2 separate regions of the Homo sapiens genome follow, and region 1 is linked to region 2. Evidence: fine-mapped expression QTL. A gene starts in region 2. The other region holds a variant in brackets. All regions are shown on one strand. Distances are from middle to middle.

Region 1 (5,379 bases), 23 kb after region 2:
GTTTAGGCAGGAAAAGAAAAGACATGCAAAAGTGAAGAAGTTCCTGTTGAAAGTGCATGATGTCATGTATAGCTCTTAGTAAGTGAAAATCGTGTCTTTGCAGGAAACCTCGTTCCAGCACAGATGGTCCTGACTGACAACCCCAGCCAGCCTTGGGAGCAATAGTTGAGATAAATCTAAAATTATAGGGTCTTCCCACAAAGGTGAGAAAAGGTGATATTTGAAGAAGAAAAGGTAATTTAAACTGGAATGTTTATACCCAAATTATTGGGCTCCCTTTGCCTCTCTTTTTTTCTTCCATTAGATTCATTTTGTTCTCGAAAGGGAAATTTTAAAACACTGTACCTTGCTCATGGTGGTGGAGCAATAATTTTTTTTCTAAATTGAATCAATCATTTCATTTTCCATTCATGCCTTCTCCTGCCCTCCAGCAAGTAACTCTCTCTCCAGTGCTGACACAGAACCAGAGATGATCACTCCCAGTGGGGAGTGTCTGTGGATCAGAATCACTAGCTCCATCCCATTCCCATCCTTCCATTCAGTGATGATGGAAAGTGCTCAGAGACTACGAGGCAGGCGTGTGCACTCAGATGCATGGGTCCTTACCTACAGCTGTGTGAACCTGGATGAGTTACTTAACCTTTCTGAGCTTCAGAATCCTTATTGGTAAAATGGTAATACCTCATAAGGTTGTCATGAGACTTGGGAGATTTAAGACAGGCAAAGTAAACCAGGTGCTGTGGCTCAGGCCTATAATCCCAGCACTTTGGAGAGCCAAGGTGGGAGGATCACTTGAGGCCAAGAGTTTGAGACCAGCCTGGACAACATAGCAAGATCCTGTTTCAATGAAAAAATTTAAAAATTAGCCAGAATGGTGGTACATGTCTGTAGTCCCAGCTACTCAGGAGGCTGAGGCAGGAAGGTCTCTTGAGCCCAGGAGTTGGTGAAACTGCCTTTGCAAAGATTATGACAGTGAGAGAAATATGGCATGGCTGACTCCATCTTGCTTCTAGCCTCTCAGGCTGGCTGGCTGGCTTTGCTCATTCCTGGGCATAGGCCAAGCTAATCATGGAAGGAATTTAACCTTGAAGCAAGGATAATAATAGTCCCTCCCTAAAACTAACTCCCTCCTTGCTCAGGGACCAAAAACTAATGAAAGGCTATGGGATTAGGATTATGGGAGGGACCTGAATTCTGCTAAAATGTAGACATAGTTTCTATAATCCCTAAGTGCTCAGGAGTCATATAATCAGAGGGCACAAGATTTGTGACTTTCCCAATTGCTCCTATAGATAGACCCCACCTGGACCCATGACTCATGACTCAGCCAATCCTGTGGCCCCCACTCAGAGGCAAACTCAATGCTCAAAGACTGTTTCCCACACCCCTGTGATTTCATCCCCAGCCAATCAGCAGTTCCCATTCCCTAGCCCCTCTGCCCACCAAATTGTCCATAAAAACCCCAGCCTCTGAGTTCTTGGGGAGACTGATTTGAGTGATGACTTCATCTCCCACATGGCCAGCCTCCCATCAATTAAACTCTTTCTTAATTGCAGTATCATGGTCTCAGTGAACTGGTCTTTTCTGTACAGTAGGCAGGAAGAACCCACTGAGTGATTACACTAGAGGCTGCAGTGACCTGTGATCCCTGCCACAGCACTCCAGCCTGGGTGATGAACTGAGAACCTGTCTCTAAAAAAAAAAAAAAAAAAAAAAAAAAAAAAAAAAAAAAAAAAGACAAGCAAAGCATGCTTCCAGCAGTTATTGACAACCATTATTAGACATAGTAGGCATAAATTGTAAGGTAGTCTCATATATTCCCCTGTTCACATGCTCCCAGACCCTGAGGTGTGTCCTCACCACTGTGTGTGCTCATTTTGGACTGTGTGTGCCCTCTGGGCACAAAAGCCACCACACCAGGCCATCTCAGAGAAGGATTTACTGAGGCCCAGACGGGTGGCTTTGTCAGCCAACCAAGAGCCAGGCCTGGAGGTCAGGTGACCTCATTCTCAGGCCCATATTTATTAGCCACCTTAAGGATTTTAAATTTTGGCAAAGGATGAAGCATTCTCAAGATCCAAGTCACATGAAGCAGAGTCTGGTTCTGTGTGTTTGTTTAAATGAAGCAGCTTATGACATGAGTATTCAATTTCTGTCATCTGTTCTAAATTTAAGCATGCAAAATGTCAAGTTATCTCACTATTTTGCTTGAGTTAAAAAAAAAGATTTAGATTTATGGCTGAATGTTATAAGAGCTTCTGCTTCATTTCAAATCCTGACAGGCCCCGCAAAAGAAGCAATTGACCAGTAAGTCCCTTCCTGAGCCTAAGGTCAGTGTGCTGGTCCTGGAATGCACATTAGCAACAAGATCCAAACCTTCTGTCCAGCCACCTCTGGAGGGAGGGTCTGGATGCTCCAATTGCTCCTGCACCACCTGTGCTCCCCACCCATGCCTCTCCCCAGCTCCCTCCCCTACTCCTCTCCAGGGAGAGCTCCATACCAAGGGCTACCTCTGAGCACCTCCAAGGCCAAGAGCTTGGAGCTCCTCCAAGACCTGGAGGACTGAATCCTCCTGGCCCTCAGCAACTTGCCCCTGGGGCAAGAGGATGTTTCTACAAAGGTGCCCCACCTGAAAGGACACCCTGGACTTAGGGCTGAGGCCCAAGGGACAGTGCCTGGCTTTAATATCCCAAGTTACTTTCCA[G/T]TGTCCCTCGATGTCTGCCACTTAAAGATAGCATCAGGTAAAATATGCATCTATTGGTTTTGTTTTCTTAGATAATAGCTTTTAATACCATGCCATTGCCTTATCAAAGACCTCATAAGAAAGCTTTGTGATAACTAAAAATTCTCTAAACAGACAAAGGAAATGGCACTTGGAATCACTGTTTATTCATTTTCTAACAAGGCCTGGTTACACCCTCTGTCTGGTATAGATAAGAAAACTTACTTTTTGTGTAACTTAGAGTCAAAATTGCAGAACTCTGCGGTGTATCTGATACTTTCTCAACCTGATTAATGGTGTTGTGGATCATAAATTGTCAACTCCCCCCCAACCTCAACACCACAAGAGCTGCAGCAAAAGCCACCCAATCTAAAGCCATCCCCTGATGGAGCACGCAGTTGCACTCTCATCTCTTCATTTTAATTATCAGCACATTACACTCCGATAGTTTCCTTGTTTGTTTATCTTCTGCCTCCAAAACACAAGAATGTAAACTCCTAAGTCAATCTCATCCACAGCAACGGCCACAGAGTCCAAAACAATGAGGTGCTCAACACCTAGTTCTCTTTGCAGCTTTAACTCTTGTTATCTAGGCAAGATCAGGAAGCCAGTGGAGAGCTAGAAGAGGAAGGAAAGTACCATAGGAGAGAGGGACATAAGGATATCCATTAAGGAAAGGAAGCTGTATCCAGGAGAAAGCCAAGGAGGGAAAATCTAAGAAATGTCATTCTCCCCCATTCTCCGTTTCTGAACCTACTAAAATAAGTAAGAATTTCAAGAATGAACTGAGCTTTTCCATCAAGCTGCTTTGCAGGTGAGCTGCCTAATGTCTACATGATCCTCTTTCCCATTCTCTGCAACCATGGCTCAAACCAGCTGCTGGAACCCAGTCTTCCCTCTGTTTCCATCAACCCCTTACCTAGCTGCCCCATGCCGTGGGCATCAAAGGCCACACCAGCCAGCTGATAGAAGCCTAACAAACTATGCCTACTGTATTAGTCTGTTCCCACACTGCTGATAAAGACATACCCAAGACTGGGTAATTTATAAAGGAAAGAGGTTTAATTGACTCACTGTTCCACATGGCTGAGGAGGCCTCACAATCATGGTGGAAGGGGAAGGAGGAACAAAATCCCGTCTTACATGGCGGCAGGCAAGAAAACTTGTATAGGGGAACTCCCCTTTATAAAACCATCAGATCTCTTGATGGTTTTATACCTATTCACTACCATGAGAACAGCACAGCAAAGACCCGTCCCCATGATTCAATTTACTCCCACCAGGTGTCTCCCACGACACATGGGAATTATGGGAGCTACATTTCAAGATGAGATTTGGGTGGGAACATGGCCAAACCATATCACCTACCTACCGAAACTGAGAATGAAAATTACTGCATAGGTGTTACACACTGACATTCAGAGACATGAGTCAAGAGAGATGACACAGGGGCAGTGAGTGAGGCCTGGGGCAGTGCCTGGGAGAACTATCAAATGGAGCAATGTATCAGTCAGCTCCAGCTGCCGTAATAGAATGCCACAGACTCAGCTCTTTTTTTTTTTTTTTTTTACTATACTTTAAGTTCTAGGGTACATGTGCACAATGTGCAGGTTTGATACATATGTATACATGTGCCATGTTGGCTTCCTACACCCATCAACTCATCATTTACATTAGGTATTTCTCCTAATGCTATCCCTCCCCCAGCCCCCTACCCCTCTACAGGCCCTGGTGTGTGATGTTCTGTTCCCTGTTTCCAGGTGATCTCATTGTTCAATTCCCACCTATGAGTGAGAACATGTGGTGTTTGGTTTTCTGTCCTTGTGAAAGTTTGCTGAGAATGGTGGTTTCCAGCTTCATCCATGTCCCTACAAAGGACAAGAACTCATCCTTTCTTATGGCTGCACAGTATTCCATGGTGTATATGTGCCACAATTTCTGAATCCAGTCTATCATTGATGGACATTTGGGTTGGTTCCAAGTCTTTGCTATTGTGAATAGTGCTGCAATAAACATACGTGTGCATGTGTCTTTATAGCAGCATGATTTATAATCCTTTCGGTATATACCCAGTAATAGGATGGCTGGGTCAAATGGTATTTCTAGTTCTAGATCCTTGAGGAATTGCCACACTGTCTTCCACAATGGTTGAACCAGTTTACAGTCCCACCAACAGTGTAAAAGTGTTCCTACTTCTCCACATCCTCTCCAGCACCTGTTGTTTCCTGACTTTTTAATGATTGCCATTCTAACTGCTGTGAGATGGTATCTCATTGTGGTTTTGATTTGCATTTCTCTGATGGCCAGTGATGGTGAGCATTTTTTCATGTGTCTGTTGGCTGCATACATGTCTTCTTTTGAGAAGTGTCTGTTCATATCCTTTGCACACTTTTTGATGGGGTTGTTTGATTTTTTCTTGTAAACTTGTTTGAGTTCTTTGTAGATTCTAGATATTAGCCCTTTGTCATATGGGTAGATTGTAAAAATTTTCTCCCATTCTGTAGGTTGCCTGTTCATTCTGATGGTAGTTTCTTTTGCTGTGCAGAAGCTCTTTAGTTTAATTAGATTCTATTTGTCTATTTTGGCTTTTGTTGCCATTGCTTTTGATGTTTTAGTCATGAAGTCCTTGCCCATGCCTATGTCCTGAATGGTATTGC
Region 2 (5,379 bases):
CTTCTCACCTTAGCCCTCCTCTTCTCCATTCCTGTGAATTACCTTTTCCCCTTTTATCCCTGGAGACATTTAAAAGCCATGCTTAAACCAAGTTCCAGTCTCACAAATAAAGGTTTTCCTCTATACCTCGGAAATGTTTATTTTTGCCCAAAGATTTCTAACTGTTTTATTCCCCTCTCTTGTGCTTACAGAGTCCCTCCCTCTGCCTCTCCATCGTTTTTTTCTGGCAGCATCTAAAAGTTTACCTGATCCCTTTAACCTGTAATTTCTCTTTATTTTGCCTCCATTGTCAATAATGTCTATTCCTGACTCAACATGCTTGTGTCCCCAGGATACAATACCTGTTTCTGGCTTTTACCAACAGCACTATCCCTAGAGTAATGGCCACTCTCTTGCTTTTATCTCAGAACTGCAGTTTCTACCACACCTCAGGCAGGGAAGCCTTAGCAGTCCACAGCAGAGTACCACCAAGGGCCCCATCTCTCTTTCATGGGGTTAAAGCCCTTTTTGTGGCTGAGTGGAAGGGAACAGGAAAATAGCAGAACAGGGTTAGGGATGAAGAGCCCTGATTTGAGCTGAGAGCCCTGCAGAGCCATGCAGTCTGTGCATCTGGCTTGAGCCCACATTTACCTGCTTTCATGCAGGGCCAAGCTGTTGCCATGGGAAACAGAAACAGCCAGACTTCCACATCAACCCTGCCCATGCTAGCTAGCAGACACCTCTGCAAGGTACATACACCTCAATCGTTTTCCCTGCATGGGATCTCAGTGTCAGTGGGAGCATTGAGAGCCCCAGCATGGAGGGCACAGGGCTCACAGCCCCCACCCACAGAGCTCTGTTTGGCCACCTTTTTGATGAGTGAAGGAGACCGGCATTCCTGAGCACTGTCTTTTGAGCACAGATCAACTTTCAAGGTGCAGATGAATGTGTCCTTGCTTCAGATACAAGGTCCAGTCAGAAGCTACAAAAAATGGAGCCATGAAATAATAATGAGAATCTCCACATGAATGGCCCACCCTAGGAGCTTTCTAGACTGGAGGGGTATTGAAGCTGCACATCACCCATGTGTCTCCAGAGCTGGTAAGCAGAAACCCACAGGCTTACTGCTATTGAAAGTGTGGGAGGAAGAAATGTGACCTTCTCTGGAGGAAAGGCCAGGAGACAATGACCTTGGGAGCATCTTATTGCTCCCCTCTCTCCCCATTTCCAAAGCTCCTGCCTCATCTGATGTCCTGCAATTCCCATTAAGTGACACCAGTTCATTCTGACTCTGCCTGTGCAGAAGCCAATGGCTTATGCTCAACAAGCCCAGATATAGTCTGCAGACACCCCAGGGGACAATAAACCCAAACGGACAAGCACTCTGTTCTTTCTGTACTCCTCAACCAGCCCTGCCGGTCCCCTGCGGGAACCCAGTCTGAACCCATCAGCCTCCCTCACTGGCTTGATGTGAATCTCATTTTAAAAGGAATTTGATCAAAGGACAGAGCAGAACAGGAAAAGAGCGCCAAACGGAGACCTGTGGTCCAACCTGCCTCTACCCAAGCCAGGTTGCGTGGCCTTGGATAGGTCATGTCACCTCCTGGACCTCAGCTCCTATGGGCTAGCTGAGTTCTAAGGTCCCCACTAGCCCCATGCTCTCTGAAATGAAAGGTGCAGTGAGCAGCGGAGCTGGTTCTTGGAGCTGGCGTTCTGCAGTCACTTCTGAGACAGAACATCAAAGCCCAGCACCTGGGAGTGGAACAAAAGAAGAATGGAGGGTTTCTTTTCCTTTTCCTTTTTTCTCCCTTTCTTTTTTGTATAAGCTCTTGCAAACTTACAATGTGGTTCAGAATGTACTGTTCTCTCAGACTGCCAAAATAGCTTGAGCAGGAGCTGCGGCCTTCATTTGAGGTAGAGAGAACTCCTCATGACTTTGTTTTCATTGTTCTTGCCTTGGGAAAGCCAGCAAATGCCTTCCTCTGTGAAAGCAGCCTTCACACAAGAAAGGAAAGATTAATGAACGCTACTAGGTAAACAGAATAGCATTTACGGAACAATTCAGCCCATTGCTGCGTGTGCCAGGTGCCGGGAGCTGCATCGTTGGCCAGGCAGGACTGAGCCAGCCTAGGGCTCCCCATAACCACCAGGAGGATTAGCTGAGGGGATTCATAAAGTGAAGGGTGGCTCGCGTATACCCAGGCTACACCCATAAGAAGATATTCATGCTGCAGTTTTCCCTGAGCAGAGGATATTCAGATACCAACATGAAAAGACTTTCTGATACTTCCATACATAGGGAGACTGTCGGGGTATAGGGGGCCTTAAAGTATGCTCTGGTCACAATTGTTTATTCCAATTTACTAGTACTTTTTTAAAAGCAATTTTAGAAATAAGATTATTCTGAAAGTTTACTTACAGGTTTCTCTCAGATTCTTCTTCGAATGCAGAAATGCACTTCCCAAGGGCTGTAGGTCTTGATATATAGCAGGAAAAAGGGAACCAGAAGTGTCGAGAGGGTCACATCACCATGAATCAACCTCTTTATTTCCCCCATAAAGTGACTGAGCCATTTAATATCAACAAAGAGTAATGCTGATACAAATGAATAGCATATTTCTTTCTAGCATTTTCCTCAGAATAGATGTTCTAGAAATTAATTATAGAAAATAATGAAATCAGATATTTTCAAACACAAGAGAGTGAGTTGTGAAAGCTTGGACGGCCTCTCTCCCTCTTTTCTCTTTTGCCCTCACTCCCATACTCCCCACATCCACTCGAGCCATTGGGAAATGACAAGCATCCGCCATACCCACCTCTCATCCACACTTGAAGAGGCAGATGGTTCGTAGGAGCCGCCTCTGCACTCATGACCCCAGACAGGTCGAATAATTGGTTTCATGCCTCCCACTCATACATGTGACTTTCCATCTTAGAAATTTAGCTTCCAAGTCAAAAGGACCAGCTTGTGTAGTTTCGGAGAGTTAGGAAAGTCTCAAAATCTTTCTACAAAATTATTCTTTACTTTTTGTTGGAGACCCCTATTATACCTGCAAAAACCTTTATCTTAAAAAAAAAAAAAGGATCAGAATAGACCCTTGGGCTCAGGCTGGGCACACAGACTGCATGTCCCTCATGAGTCCTTTGTGTAAGGGGCTGACTTAGTCCTGAAGATGAAGAGAGCTGTTGAAATGAGATGTTTTCATTTGAACAGGAAGGATGGGACTGCAATGTGGGTGTCTGATTGAGTCATCCAGAAGCAGCCATGGTGGCCCCAAGGGAGGGAAGGGTCAGGGAGTGGGCAGGATCTTGAGGAAACGGCCCCAGACTTTGGTGAGTGGGAAGTCACTGGTGTTTCTGGAAGAGCCATTTAGGCAGGGGCCTAGGGGTGGGCACCACTCTTCAGTGGGCTGGAGCGTGAACTGGAGTGGGAGGAGGGGAGGAGCAAGCCAACCGGCTGGACTGGATGGGGTTCCTTTGTAGTAGTGCTAGGGATGGAAATGGAGAGGGAGAAGGCAGCAGTAGAGAGGTAGTGGTTTGAGTTTGGGGAAAACTAGATGAAATTTAGCATATCAGCCTCACAAAGAAGAATAAAGATAAGAGAGAGATGTTGGTACTCCCTGAGGAGGGAGGGAGGAAAGCTGAGGGCAGTTGCAACTTTCTTGGGGAAGGAGGAGATGGAGCCTTCTGAGAACGGGGGATGGAGACAGAAGTTGCTGGATCATGGAGAACAAACCTGGGGGCAGCTGCAGAAGAAAGAACTGGGAAGAGGAAATGGAGGGGCTCCCAGCTCCCACAACCAAAAATGGAGTCAGTGACATGGTTTTGAGAGTCCCCAGCAATTCCCAACTTGGGAGTGAAAGAAAAAGGCTGATTTGACAATACCTATACAAATTTATAAGCTACTAGAATTAGTCATTCCAAGAATTTATCTTATATTTGCATGGTATGTGTGTGCAGTGTGTATGTGTATGTGTACGTGTGTGTACAAATCCACCATATGCCTCTCTATGCCAGCTGGATAGCTAGATACACAGATCAGCATTGATTGTAATAGAGAATATGTAGAACAACCCACATGTCTATCAATTGGGAATTGGTTACATAAGTGTTCATATCTCCAGTAAAATGACTTATTCCCATAATGTATCCTTCTTCCAACTGAAATGGTCTTCCCTTCCTCTCCTTCCTTCGGGAAGCCTTCACAGGATATCTCATATCTTCCTGATTACTCCCTTAGTAGATGCTAAGGTATTCCCCACCATATCAGTTTTCATTCTCTTTTACCACCCTGCAGTGGTAGATCCCAATTAATGACCTCTCTGTATGCATGACCTTTGCCTTGTAACTTTGTAGTTCCCACCCAATTTGAATCTGGGCTTAACCATGTGGCCCGGTTTGGCCAGGAGGTAGGTAGTAAACTTGATACACGAAAGAAAGAAAGAAAAAGAAAGAAGAAAGAAAGAAAGAAGAAAGAAAGAAAGAAGAAAGAAAGAAAGAAAAAGAAAGAAAGAAAGAAAGAAGGAAAGAAAGAGAAAGAAAGAAAGAGAAAGAAAGAGAGAGAGAGAAAGAGAGAGAGAGAAAGGGAGAAAGAGAAAAAGAAAGAAAGAAAGGGAGAGGCCAATTGGGTTTAAAACTCAGAGACCCCTACAAATTGGTGCAACTTAAGGTGGAGGGGCTGTGATATAGGCAGATGAGATTCAGCTGGTGCTGCAAGATTTCTTTCCTGCACTCCTAGAGAACTCAGAGAATGGAAAAGCTATGCTCAGCTGGGAATTTTAACCTGATCAGCTCAAATGTTGTTTAATTACTTTGAAAGTCTGTAGTTAGTGAGCTGGACTCTTTGAGTATCCACCTGCACTTCTCAGAAGAATAGCCTCAGAACAGCAATGGTTGGTTAAGAGGGCCTGAGAAACAGGAATCATCCTGATTTTAACGCCAACGCCATTGACCAAATGAAGTCAGGGCCTGAACTTCCAGGACATCTCTGGGATTCTGCCTCAGGGGCCCAGCAAGGAGTAGTCACTGCTGAAATTACTGTATGACCCTAAGGTCAGGAGCATCTTCTGTTCTTTCTCTTGCCATCAAGGAATCTCTGTCCTGCAGAGGTGGTTTTAGGTTTGATGAGTCACAGAAGCACAGATAACACTAGGCTCACTTCAGACCCATGACTCACCCAGCCCAGGAACTCCTCTAGAAAACCAGCATAGAGAGAGGGTGTTTTGTGAAGCAGCATGGCCTGACATAGACAAGACTTGTCGCTTTGTCCCTTTAGTAGCTTTTAACCCCTTAAAAATTGCTATGGCCAGGTGTAGTAACTCACACCTGTAATCCCAGCACTTTGTGAGGCCAAGGTAAGAGGATCCCTTCAGCCCAGGAGTTTGAGACCAGCCTGGGAAA

Alleles and levels. Positions count from the first base shown, and alleles are read on the strand shown. Sizes are in standard deviations (SD) of each study's normalised expression.
For the expression in hypothalamus of the gene that starts at base 2,435 in region 2, allele G in region 1 goes with a higher level than allele T (small effect, 0.37 SD a copy in GTEx).

The links. PIP is the estimated chance that this variant, and not a neighbour inherited with it, causes the effect. A credible set is the group of variants that fine-mapping cannot tell apart.
Region 1: its variant is the best candidate, but not a certain one, in a credible set for the expression of DCSTAMP in hypothalamus (GTEx, PIP 0.88).

The regions. Positions count from the first base shown.
Region 1 is chr8:104,313,627-104,319,005 of GRCh38, reverse strand. It overlaps LOC107986899 (a long non-coding RNA gene), which reads left to right. Exons shown (of 3, transcript XR_001745732.1): 2 at 104-203. Among named protein-coding and RNA genes, the nearest start is that of DCSTAMP, 24 kb to the left of the region's middle. The variant G/T (reference allele first, on the strand shown) is at 2,705.
Region 2 is chr8:104,336,882-104,342,260 of GRCh38, reverse strand. It overlaps DCSTAMP (dendrocyte expressed seven transmembrane protein), which reads right to left and starts at 2,435. Exons shown (of 4, transcript NM_030788.4): 1 at 2,399-2,435.